3 separate regions of the Homo sapiens genome follow, and regions 1 and 2 are each reported to be linked to region 3. Evidence: microRNA targets listed by miRTarBase, many of them from high-throughput screens and not tested one by one. Region 3 holds a microRNA gene; each other region holds the end of a gene's coding sequence.
The links. Region 3 holds the annotated microRNA hsa-miR-520f-3p (AAGUGCUUCCUUUUAGAGGGUU, at 2,691-2,712, opposite strand). A microRNA usually pairs through its seed, bases 2 to 8, with sites in the 3' UTR of a target mRNA and lowers its output. Matches are read on the target gene's strand: a 7mer-m8 pairs with bases 2 to 8, a 7mer-A1 pairs with bases 2 to 7 and ends in A, and an 8mer does both.

Region 1: the mRNA of EIF2S1 is a reported target of hsa-miR-520f-3p. Seed matches in the 3' UTR shown: 8mer at 3,160-3,167 and 7mer-m8 at 3,656-3,662.
Region 2: the mRNA of RNASEH1 is a reported target of hsa-miR-520f-3p. The part of its 3' UTR that is shown has no 7-base or 8-base seed match.

The regions. Positions count from the first base shown.
Region 1 is chr14:67,382,703-67,386,702 of GRCh38, forward strand. EIF2S1 (eukaryotic translation initiation factor 2 subunit alpha) reads left to right here. Exons shown (of 8, transcript NM_004094.5): 8 at 613-3,814. The coding sequence ends at 738. It also overlaps a transcript of GPHN not described here. Among named protein-coding and RNA genes, the nearest start is that of EIF2S1, 24 kb to the left of the region's middle.
Region 2 is chr2:3,542,227-3,546,226 of GRCh38, forward strand. RNASEH1 (ribonuclease H1) reads right to left here. Exons shown (of 8, transcript NM_002936.6): 8 at 1-3,645. The coding sequence ends at 3,559. Among named protein-coding and RNA genes, the nearest start is that of RNASEH1, 14 kb to the right of the region's middle.
Region 3 is chr19:53,705,752-53,710,218 of GRCh38, reverse strand. MIR520C (microRNA 520c) reads right to left here and starts at 2,766; the gene lies at 2,680-2,766. It overlaps MIR526A1 (microRNA 526a-1), which reads right to left and starts at 3,967; the gene lies at 3,883-3,967. It overlaps MIR518C (microRNA 518c), which reads right to left and starts at 1,484; the gene lies at 1,384-1,484. LOC107985346 (a long non-coding RNA gene) reads right to left here. Exons shown (of 5, transcript XR_001753998.1): 4 at 3,012-3,134; 5 at 1,910-1,950.

The DNA of each region.
Region 1 (4,000 bases), not on the chromosome of region 3:
AGGCCTTTGATCACTAATGGTGTTAGGGTCACCCCCCGTCCCCAGCCAGGGGGAAGGGAATAAACAATATAAATGAGAAGTTTTTTTATGGTTTGAATTTGCATGTGGCATGTCTAAAATTTGATCTCAGAATTGGAGAAAAAAAAAGTTGTCTCCTGTCTTTTCCTTGTCCAACAAGAAAGAAGTGTGTGTACGTGCGTGCGTGCGTGTGTGTGTGTGTGTGTGTTATGGTTCCTTCTATGGAAAGGACTAGTAAGCTAGTAAGTAGTAGTTTGAGCCTGGAAGACAGGTTTTTTTAACAGGATATCTATTTGTGGTCTTGAAAGATACAGCCATTGGGGTTATTTCATGTTTTCAGTTTTAGCTTATAAAAATGACAGAAAATAATTTTCCATTTTAATACATACATCCTTTTTCTATACTATTCTCATAAGTTTCACCTCTTATTTATGTAATGGAATTTATTGCTGATAAGTCACTCAAAAGTGAACAGATATGACAGAGTTGTTAGAAAAGTGTTAAAGAGAGAAAACATTAGGCAGTAATAGTATTGAAATTAAATTTGTATAGTATTTACTACTTCAGTTTGAAATTATACCTCTGCTTCCACAGCCCAAAGTGGTCACAGATACAGATGAGACTGAACTTGCGAGGCAGATGGAGAGGCTTGAAAGAGAAAATGCCGAAGTGGATGGAGATGATGATGCAGAAGAAATGGAAGCCAAAGCTGAAGATTAACTTTGTGGGAAACAGAGTCCAATTTAAGGAACACAGAGCAGCGCTTCCTGGCTGTAAATCCTAGACTTGAAAGTTTTCCAGTATTGAAAACTTCAAAGCTGAATATTTTTTATTTCTAAGTATTTAAATGTTCTAACAGATCAGAACATGAAATGCCCTCCTAAATGTCAGCTGTTGTCACACAGTAGCTCCAACACTTTGAGCATTTTTAAGGGAGTGGCCTCATTTCACTAGAGACAAATCTTTAAGAATAGTTCTAAAATTGGGCTTGTGATTTCCATTTCTGATGTCTCCAGATTGGCACCCCTTTCTAGTTCAATGCCTCACGAGATTTGCCAGGGGCATCCAAGGCAAACAATCCCAATCTTTCTATATAAAATGTATTCAAGCAAACATCAAATAAATTTCTGGGATATTTAACTATAGGCTTCTTCCTTCTTGTCACCAGTTAAAAGCATTTTAATACTAAGACCCTAATTCTTTTATCTTTATTTTAGTCTTGATGTGGAACTGTAGGAGCAGGTGAATAAAGGATCTCTATAACAGATCCTTTCAAAAGAAGAGTTTTAGAGAAAATAAATTTAACTTTAACCACAGTGAAAGTTGACCCTTAGCGGGACAAAGCCTTAAAATGCATTGAAAGAATTAGATCGGTTCTGTGCCTTTTATCTATTTGAGATTGATGACAACCTGTGTGAGAGAATTTATCACACCACGTCCTTATTGGAATAATAAGCTACTTGCCTTGAGTTTATAATTCAGGGTGGTAAAGTATGTTTTTAAATTTTAAAAAGCAGCTGCATTTTTTATTTAGTTGGAATATCACCCAATTTTTTATTTTTATTGCTATTAAAATATCCACTAGATGCCACCTAGAGCTCCAGTTCTTTATAACAAAACAGGGATCTGTTTGAACACTTACTGTTGTTTTTTTTTTTTTACATGTTTCCATCATTTCTGTCTTTAAGAACTAATTCGTACATAATAAGTTTCATAGGTAACACATTATTTGAAGTTACAGCTACAGTAGTCAGGTGTAGAAAATCTTGAGTTGCTTTGGTCTGCTTGTCTTCATAAATTTATTCTCTTATGATACTTGAGGTACCAGTTGTATTTAATTTTATTCATTATCCCTAGATAGCTATTAAGATACTTAGATTAGACCTAACCCACCATAGTCAATCCAAGACTAGACTACTCAATATTAAAGGGTCTGGAAAATAGAAGAGTGTGTTGGGCAGGTAGTTTGTACCATTTATGAAGGTTTGTTCCTTTGTTAAATTTAGCAGCCTGTACTAGCTTTTGAAATCCAGAAGTTTTAACTTCCAGTGGCTGGTTTCTGAGAGAGTGCCATGATTGCTAGCCAGCATTCCATATTGGGAATATGTAGAGGAGAACCTGGATGTACTTAAGAGTGGCATATAATTTTCACTTCTGTCTGTTGAGGCATCAAAAAAACAAGTTTAGAAAGCTGGCAACATGAAGAATGCATTCAAAATATAACAGGTGCTTCTTTGTTGTACGCAGAGGAATTTTTTCTTTTGATTTTGTTTACTGAAATTTGTTATACTTCAAAAGCCATAACTTGAAAAATACTGGTGGCGTCGATGGTGAGTGATTTTTATCCCACGTGGGCCTTTTGCTCAGTTCCATGGCAATTTTGTAAATTGACCCTAGCCAGAGAATAGATCAGTATTTCACTGATACCACGAGGAAAAGAACAAACAAAACTTAAAAGTATTCATACACCTTGCTAACCTAAAAGACAGCAGGGACAAGATACATATGAGGACAAGGTATACACCCAGTTCTGAATAACTTGAAGAACAGGCTTGGCAAAGAAGTAAGTTTATCCAAATCTTGAATTTCTGCCAGGCATGGTAGCTCATGCCTGTAACCCTGGCACTTAAGGGGCCAAGGCAGGAGGATCACTTGAGGCCAGTGAGCTGTGATCACTCCAGTGCACTCGAGCCTGGGTGACAGGGCAAGACCCTGTCTCAAAAAAAAAAAAAAAAACCAAAAATCTTGAATCTCCCATCAAAGCCTTTTCATTAAAAATACAATTTCATCTACTCCCTACTGTACCTTTCACTGATGTCAAGTGGCTATCAATTCATATAGCTGAAAATTAGTGATAGTTTGGGTCTCATTTATGCATAAATTAATTGAAAATCAGTAATGGCCAGGAAGAAATATGAATATTCAAACCACTTTTTTCTTTTTTTTTTTTTTTTTTTGGCAAATGGTGTTATATTGCCTGGGCAGGTCTCGAAATCCTGGGCTCAAGCTATCCTCCTGCCTCTGCCTCTGTAAGAGTGTGAGCCACCATGCCCCACCCAAACCATTTTTCATATCAGTTATAGCAAAACAAGACAAACCAGTTCTTAATAATGTTCAAAGTTGGACCCATAGAGACATGCTAAGCACTACATCATGCTAAGAAGAACAGTTATTACTCAGCTGCCATACTTCAGCCATTCTACTTTTACACCAAGAACAAAATGGCTAGAGATTTTTTTAAAAATACAAATGCCAGTACCTTGCCGAGACTTGTTCACTGATTTGCCCCAACCCCAAGGTAATGGTCATCTACTTTGCAACCTATGGAGATCCTGATAGCTCCCATACAAAGTGAGGTACACTGTTGCCAATTTGGAGGCAGGAAGCCATCAAACTAAACGTAGTTTAATTCAGATGAACACCTATCGATATTCAAAAGGCAAAACAAAAAAACTAATTCCAGGGACATTAGACCTTGGTGAAATGCCAAATGGAAAATGGTGCTTTAAAAGGTAGTCTCTTACCATATAAGGAATAAGTAAAACATTAGCTTGTGATTTCTCATTATTCAGGTCAATGTTTTAGACACGACTAACAAGGGACAGTTCAAACTATTAAAGAGAACAAATTTTTACTTAAGCACTTTGAGGTATCCACTCCCCTTAAATGTAAGTTATGTATTTTATCTGTTGATTAAGGGGAGGTCCAAGCATTTGTACTTGGCAGGAATGCTGGCAATAGCTTGTGCCAGATTACTGTATAAACTTGAAAGTAATAAAAATGTTCTTTAAAAGTATTGTATGATACAGACTTTTCACTACAGATTAACCTTCCAACTGGTGAAGTTTCTTGGTACCTATTTGTCTCAGCTTATATTCATTTTAAAACCAAAATTTAATGCCTTGATATAAATCTTCCCCATTTACATCTTTTTCTGTCCTTTAGAGCGCTCTTACTCTGCATTGCTAAATGCCCATTTTTC
Region 2 (4,000 bases), not on the chromosome of region 3:
GAAAGAGCACACCATACGCTTGCAAATATGGACCAGGACAACCAATACCAACACATGACACATTCGAATAAAACGGCCGACTTGACAGAAAAAGGAAAAAATCCTTTGGGCATCTAAGGAAAAACAGCATATGACTGTCAGGGGAAGAAAACAAGATTCATCAGGCTTTTCATGCATCACTTTATGCTGGAAGAAAACAGAATAAAACAAGATACTCAAAGAAAATCTGGGCCAAGAATTTCGTATCCAGCAAAACTGAATTCAACATCAGAAACTCAAGGAATACTGTCCCCAAGATGACACTGACTATAGACTGGTTATGAGACCTGAACACACAGAAATGAGTCAATGGTGGTAAAAAGGAGCAATTTTTCTGACAACGTAGACACAGTGCTGTTTTCATCATCACAATTAATGCTATGGTATTAGTATTTTTTTTAAATGCTAAATGCTAAAGAGGAATAAAACAAGTGAGTGATTAAGGGATGGATATTCCATGCCATTGTCCTGTGTCTTGAGAAGCAGGATTCCGAGTGCAGGAGACACAGACATCATATAGAGGAGGCTATGTAAAGGCCCCAGGACCCTGAATTTGTATTGGGAATATCAATATAGGCTCAGAAAATATTCTTCCTTTAAATATGTGTGTGCAATGTTTGTATTTTTTTAAAGCTCCGTCCAAAAATCTAGAAATAATGACCAACGCAATAGCAATGAGCATCCTAAACTGGATCTGAAATACCATCTCTACCAGAGACTCTGGGAAAAATAATGGATTCCAAGTGTTAAACGGAATTAAGTTTGGCCTAAAACTGCCTCTGTACATAGTGACTTATAACCTCACTTAATGTATAAGCAAACTGGGACCTGACTTGAGAGTACACTTCTGTAACAAGCAGCAGAGTCTCACCAATCACATGCTGAAGGCTCCCAAAACATGCCTATGTGAGGTGGAGGCTGACCTGCAGTCAGTCTGGCCATGTACATGTGTCTTTCCCTTCCTGTGGCTATAAATAAATACAGCCTGCACACAACGCACAGGAGAACGTTCTGAACCACTTTTGGTCCTGAGTGCTACCCAGCTGAAGAAACTATTTTCTGCTCAATTAAACTGCTAACTTGTCTAAAGTTTTTCTTTTAAGACAGGTTTGGAGCAGAAGCTCTATAAATTGGGCCTAGAGCATCTTGACATGCCAGGCTGCAGGGAGCTATCAATGACTGTGCGTGTGGTCTGTGCACACATGTATGCACACATGTGCACACTTATCAAAAGAAAGCAAGAGCCAAGCTGAAGAGGCTCCCTCTCACTGACCGAATAAGCTAGTCTGAGCTAAATAAAGATAAAAATCACAACGGATTGAAACCCACCAAGTATGCTTAACTCCACAAATTCTTTTTTTTTTTTAAGACAAGGACTTGCTGTCGCCCAGGCTGGAATGTGGTGGCATGGTCACAGCTCACGCATCCTCGACCTCCTGGGCCCAAGCGATCCTCCCATCTCAGCCTCCAGAATAGCTGGGACAACAGGCAGGCACTACCACACCCACCTGATTTTATTTTAATTTTCTGTAGAGACAGGGTGTCACTATGTTGCCCAGACTAGTCTCAAACTCCTGGGTTCATGTGATCCTCCAGCCTCAGCCTCCCAAAGTGCTGGGATTACAGGCATAAGACACCATGCCCAGCCCATGAATTCTTGTATATATGTAAAAACCCTTCACCACTCACCTTCCTTGACAGACAACTAATGCATTATCTTAAAAACTTAGTGTACAAGAGCAAAGAATCAAGCATTTATCCTGCCCTTCCTATATGAACTGTACCACTGGGTAACCAGATAAGTATAAAAAAGAAAACACTTTCTTAGAAAACCATTCCAGCTAATAAAGGCAAGCAAAACGACAGAATGAGAATACCACCATTTTGCAACCCCAAATAATTAATGGATCTTGGCACTGAGCATCAGCTGCCGTCAACATGGTACTTTCCTGAGGAAAGCTCCTAACCGCCTGTTCTCCTGCCAAAGGGATCAAATTTGAGGCTCATCAAGCCTCTGGACCCAGCTGCCAATGTGCAGGAAACATAGAGGACCATGCTGAACTACACCATGACCACGTGGTCAGCAAAATCTACACTGTGGGAAGCCATGGGACAAACAGCCCAGGCTCTTCAACAGATAAACGGCAGGGAAAACAGTGAGGCCGACGGGACTGCAAATGGACACTGAAGTAGATAAAAAAATAAACAAAAAAAAGCAGACAAGACTAAACTGCCATCAAAAAACCAAGAAAGTCATTTCTGTAAAAGTCAGGATTACTTGTTGGGGCAAGGAGGGGGAGAAGAAGAGGGCTGTGGCTGGAGGGGCACTTGGGAGAGCCTCCTGGGGTATCTGGCAAAGTACTATTTCTTCACCAGGTGGTGGACACAAAGGTTATTCACCTTACAATCATAATCATTCAATAAGCTATACATTTGTTTTGTGTCACTTCCTGTATGTTTTTATAATAAAAAGGTTTAAAACTAAATAAATAATCATGTCAAACTTTTACTACTTTTTTTTTTTTTTGAGACAGAGTCTCACTCTGTTGCCCAGGATGGAGTGCAGTGGTGCAATCTTGGCTCACTGCAACCTCTGCCGCCTGGGTTCAAGTGATTCTTGTGCCTCAGCCTCCCAAGTAGCTGGGACTACAAGCCCGTGCCACCACACCTGGATAATTTTTGTAATTTTAGTAGAGACAGGGTTTCGTCATGTTGGCCAAGCTGGTCTCAAACTCCTGACCTCAAGTGATCTGCCCGCCTTGGCCTCCCAAAGTGCTAGGATTACAGAAGTGAGCCACTGTGCCCAGCCGGTGTCTTACTTTTTTTTTTTTTTTTTTAATTTGCACAGTTTTTAACGAAAGAGCCAAATAAATTTTTGAAAGTTTATTTATGCTTCTTGGTCTTTATGAGTCGCAGCTGTTCCTAGAGAATGGCCTAGCAGCCAGGGTCGCCGCAGGCAGGCTTTGCCCTATACTAACTGCCCAGCAAGCAGGCACATGGGGCTGAGACCCAGCACACATCCTGCCCACTGAGCTGTCCGCCCAGGCCCTGGGCAGCATGTTCCTTTAATGTACCCATGGGCACAAGTCACCTATACAAGCAGGAGACTCAAACCTGTCAACTGGACGGTAAATGGATGCTTTCAGAATACTTCCAGACTTCTGAGTTGCATCTTTTAACCAATGGTTTTTTGATTTCTTATCAAAATATAAGCCACAGCATTTTAGGCCATTTGCCTTGCTTGCCTGCAATAAAACAAGCAAGGACAGTATTGAACCCAGTAAACATAATGTGGAAATCTCACATAATTCTCCAATCTCAAAGATGTTCAATTTATTATATACTTAACCATTTTTTATAAACACATGTCACAGAAGGCCACTGTGCCTGATTCCGTGTGAAAGACGCATCTGCCCATCACTGCAATGGTCCTACCTGCAGGCTATTTTCCACACCAGTAAGTACAGGCAGCAAGACAGCCGCTGGCTCAAGTTCTCCCAAGGACTAAAGTCACATGGCTCAGTCTTCCGATTGTTTAGCTCCTTCTCTGGCTAATCTGTCAGCTTCTTCATTGCCTATAAATCCCGAATGACCAGGAACATGCATCTGTTAAGATAAATGTTTTCCTTTTATTTTTACTCATCTTTACATAAGCAACACATGACTATATTGTCATCATAAAAAACCATTCAGAACAGACTGCACAGCATAAGCTCAACTTCAACGCTCCTCTCCCCAGACATGATCCTCAACAGCACGCTGTCCATTCTTCATGCGTTTACGCAATGGATGTGATTTACGAACATTCCATTTTGTTTTTTCACAAATTGGATTTTACCGTTCATGTTGCTATTTCCTCCCCACTTATCAATGGGACTTGATAAGCTTTCCAGGCAAAACACATGTATGTACAGATGGGTGGACGGATATGTATGCAACACACACACACGCTTCCCTTGCA
Region 3 (4,467 bases):
AGACGGGGTTTCACCATATTGGTCAGGCTGGTCTCGAACTCCTGACCTCCTGATCCGCCTGCTTCAGTCTCCCAAAGTGCTTGGATTACACACCTGGCCCTTACTCTCCTAATGAAGGAAACATGGTTTGGATTGATTAAACTAAACTGATGAAAGGCCTGTATTTGAAGTGACCAACCCAAATGGAGCCTCAGGAACCAGATGGCATGTAATCTGCGTTTTTAAAGAGATGGGATCTTGCTATGTGGCCCAGGCCGGAGTGCAGTGGCTATTCAAAGGTGTGATCAGTGCATGGTATAGCCTTAAAATCAAAGGACCCTCCCACCCTAGCCTTTGCAGTAACTGGGACCCTGTGTGTCCCAGGATGCCTGGCCGTGTCACCTATCTTTGAAATGGGACAAGGTGGCTCACACATTTAGGATCACTTAAGCTCAGCTGAGACCATCCCAGGCAAAAGAGACCCCATCTCTACCAAAAATTAAAACCTGAGCCCAACTACTTGCGAGGCTGACAAGAAGACCACTTGAGGCTGGACGTGGTGGCTCACGCCTGTAATCCCAGCACTTTGGGAGGCCAGGGAGGTGGATCACTTAAGGTCAGGAGTCGAGACCAGCCTGGCCAACATGGCGAAACCCTTTCTTGTCTAAAAATACAAAAATTGGCAGGGTGTGTTGGTGGGTGCTTGTAATACCAGCTATTTGCGAGGCTAAGGTGAAAGAATCACTGGAACTCCACGGTGAGTGGAGATCCTGCCACTGCACTCCAGCCTGGGCGACAGAGGTGGGAGTTACAGTGAGTGGAGATCCTGCCACTGCATTCCAGCCTGGGCGACAGAGCCAGTCTCCATCTCAAAATAAAATAAAATAAATAAAATAAAACAAAATAAAATAACAGGCTGGGCACGGAGGCTCACACCTGTAATCCCAGCACTTTGGGAGGCCGAGGCGGGTGGATCATGAGGTCAGGAGTTTGAGACCATCCTGGCCAACGTGGTGAAACCCGGTCTCTACTAAAAATACAAAAATTAGCTCGGCATGGCGGTGCGTGCCTGTAATCCCAGCTACTCAGGAGGCTGAGGCAGGAGAATCGCTTGAACCACGGAGTCGGAGGTTGCAGTGAGCTGAGATTCCGCCACTGGACTCCAACCTGGTGACAGAGCGAGACTCCGTCTCACACACACACAAAAATAAGAATTAATAATAATAATAGAGCAAGACATGACCCCAAGAGATCTAGTTTGGAGTGCAACCCCTCCCTCTCCAGCCTGGGCAACAGAGACTGGTCTTGGAAAAAAATAAAACCAAAACAGAACCCTGCCGTCATCCAAGCCTGATAAGCATGCTCTGCGAATGTATTACCAAGATCAGCATCAACTTCAACGTTGCTTTTCTCAAACCGTAACACTCTAAAGAGAAGCGCTTTGTTTTCTTTCAGACAACAGAAAGTGCTTCCCTCCAGAGAGTCACAGCATGAGATCTTCTCGCTCCAGCCATCTGGGATTTTTGTTGAAATTTTCCTTGACCAGGTTAAGATGGACACAAATATAAAGATGCATTTATTCGCTGTTTGACCGTTTTCTGGAATCCAGAACATAAACCTCTAAAAGGACAATCTCCAGGCTCAGCAGATTAGCCTTGTTCATCAAGGGGAATCCTCCTAAGTTTTGTCTCCAAGGAGAAAAAGCAATGCCCACTACACATACCTTACCTTTAACCAAGAGAATTGAGGTGGATTTCTAGAGAACAGCAATGGATTGAGTCACATGGTCACTTGAGTTCCAGCACAGGGACACACAGTCATGATGGGAGCATCCAAAATGGAATCTAAATTTGCCAGGCGTGGTGGTGCCCACCTGTAATCCCAGCTACTCAGGAGGCTGAGGCAGGAGAATTGCTTGAACCCGGGAGGCGGAGGTTGCAGTGAGACGAGATCGTGCCAATGCACTCCAGCCTGGGTGACAGGAAAGAAAAAAAGAATATGCATTGTCTTACACACAAACATTCTCCAGGATAGAGCACTGCCTAGGCCGTAAAAGCTCCTCAATAACATTTGTACAGAAGTACGGGTGGAGTGCAGTGGCTTACACCTCTAATCCCAGCACTTTAGGAGTCGAAGGCGGGAAAATTACATGAGCTCGAGTTCAAAACTAGCCTGCCCAACATAGTAAAACCTCATCTGTAAAAATACAAAAGATAGCCAGGTGTAGTGGTTCATGCCTGTAGACACTAATTCAGGAGGCTGAGGTGGGAGGTAGAGGCTGCAGTGAGTTGAGGTCACAACACTGCACTCCAGCCTGGGCAATAGAGCCAGATGGTGTCTCAAAAAAAATTAAAAAAAAAAAAAATACACAAACAAAAACAACCCCAAAGTGATATAAGAGTATTCTCTGTGTGCAGAAGACTATTTTGTGTGAATATAATTATACATAGAAGATTATATGATAACATGTATATATTTTGGAGACCCTGTCTCAAAAAAACAAAGTTCCATGTACTATATGCTCACATAAAGAATAATTCCTACATACTAGTGCTTGGGCAGCAAGAACGAAACTCCATCTCAAAAAAAAAAAAAAGAAAAAATCAAAACAAAAACAGAAGCCCACCATCATCCATCTCTGATGATAAGCATGCTCTGAAAATGTATTACCAAGATCAGCATCAACTTCAATGTTGCTTTTCTCAAACGGTAACCCTCTAAAAGGAAGCACTTTCTTTTCTTTCAGACAACAGAAAGTGCTTCCCTCTAGAGGACGACAGCCTGAGATCTTCTTGCTCTGGCACTGTGGATTTTTTGTGGGAATCTTCCTTGACCAGGTTAAAATGGACGCAAAAATAAAGATGCATTTATTTGCCCTGTTTGCATGTTTTCTGGAATCCAGAGCATAAATCCCTAAAAGGACCATCTGCAGTTCTTTGCTTCAAAGAATCAGCAGGTTAGCCTTGTTCATCAACGGGCAATCCTCCTGAGTTTTGTTCCCAAAGAGAAAAGGCAATGCCTACTACACATACCTTATCTTTAACCAAGAGAATTGGGCTGGATTTCTAGAGAATAGCAATGGATTTTGAGCCAAGTGGTCGCTTGAGTTCCAGTACAGGAGCGCACAGTCCTCATGGGGGCATCCGAAATGGAATCTAAGATGTTGAAGAATATACACTGTTGTAGGCACAAACATCCTGCAGGGTAGACAACAGGCTACCCTGTAAACGCTCCTCAATAAAATCTGAGCAGAAACAGACGAGTATAGGTGGGGCACAACAGCTCACACCACTAATCCTAGCACTTTAGGAGGCCAAGGTGGAAGATCACCTGAGCTAAGGAGTTCGAGACCAACCTGGGCAACATGGGGAAACCACATCTGTACAAAAAAACCAAAAGTTAGCCAGGTGTGGTGGTGTATGCCTGCAGACAGCTATTCAGGAGGCTGAGCTGGGAGTTGGAGGTTGCAGTGAGCCGAGATCGCACCACTGCACTCCAGCCTGGGCGACAGAGTGAGACTCTGTCTCTAAAATGAATAAGTTAAAAAATAAATACATAACAATAATACAAAAATTAGCTGGGCGTGGTGGCATATGCCTGTAATCCCAGCTGCTCGGGAGGCTGAGGCAGGAGAATCATTTGAACCTGGGAGGCAGAGGTTGCAGTGAGCAAAGTTCCTGATACTGAGCTCCAGCCAGGGTCACAGAGCAAGACTCTGTCCCAAAAAAGAGGGCCACTTGAACCCAAGAGATCTAGGTTGGAGGGGCCACCATACTCCAGCCTGGGCAACAGACACCCTGTCTTAGGAAAAAAAACCAAAAAAACCCCACAAAACCCCAACATCATCCAAGTCTGATTATAAGCATGATCTCCAAGATCAGCATTAACTTCAATGTTGTTTTTCTCAAAGAGTAATCCTCTAAAAGGAAGCGCTTTCTCTTCTTTCAAGCAACAGAAAGTGCTTCCCTCTAGAGGGTCACAGCCTGAGCTCTTCTTGCTCCAGCACTGTGGGTTTTTTGTTGGAATTTTCCTTCACCAGGTTAAAATGGACACAAAAATGAGGATGCATTTATTGGCCCTGTTTGCATGTTTTCTGGAATCCAGAACATAAAACCCTAAAAGGACCATCTCCAGTTCCTTGCTTCAAAGTCTCAGCAGGTTAGCCTAGATCATCGAGGGACAATCCTCCTGAGTTCTGTCTCCAGAAAAAGCATTGCCTACTACACATACCTTACATTTAACCAAGAGAATTGGGCTGGATTTCTAGAGAACAGCAATGGATTTTGAGCCAAGCGTTCACTTGAGTTCCAGCACAGGGACACACAGTCCCGATGGGAGCATTCAAAACTGAATCTCCCATGTTGAAAAATATACATTGTTGGCCGGGCGCAGTGGCTTATGCCTGTAATCCCACCACTTTGGGTGGCTGAGGCGGGCGGCTCACATGAAGTCAGGGGTTTCAGACCAGCCTGGCCAACATGGTGAAAA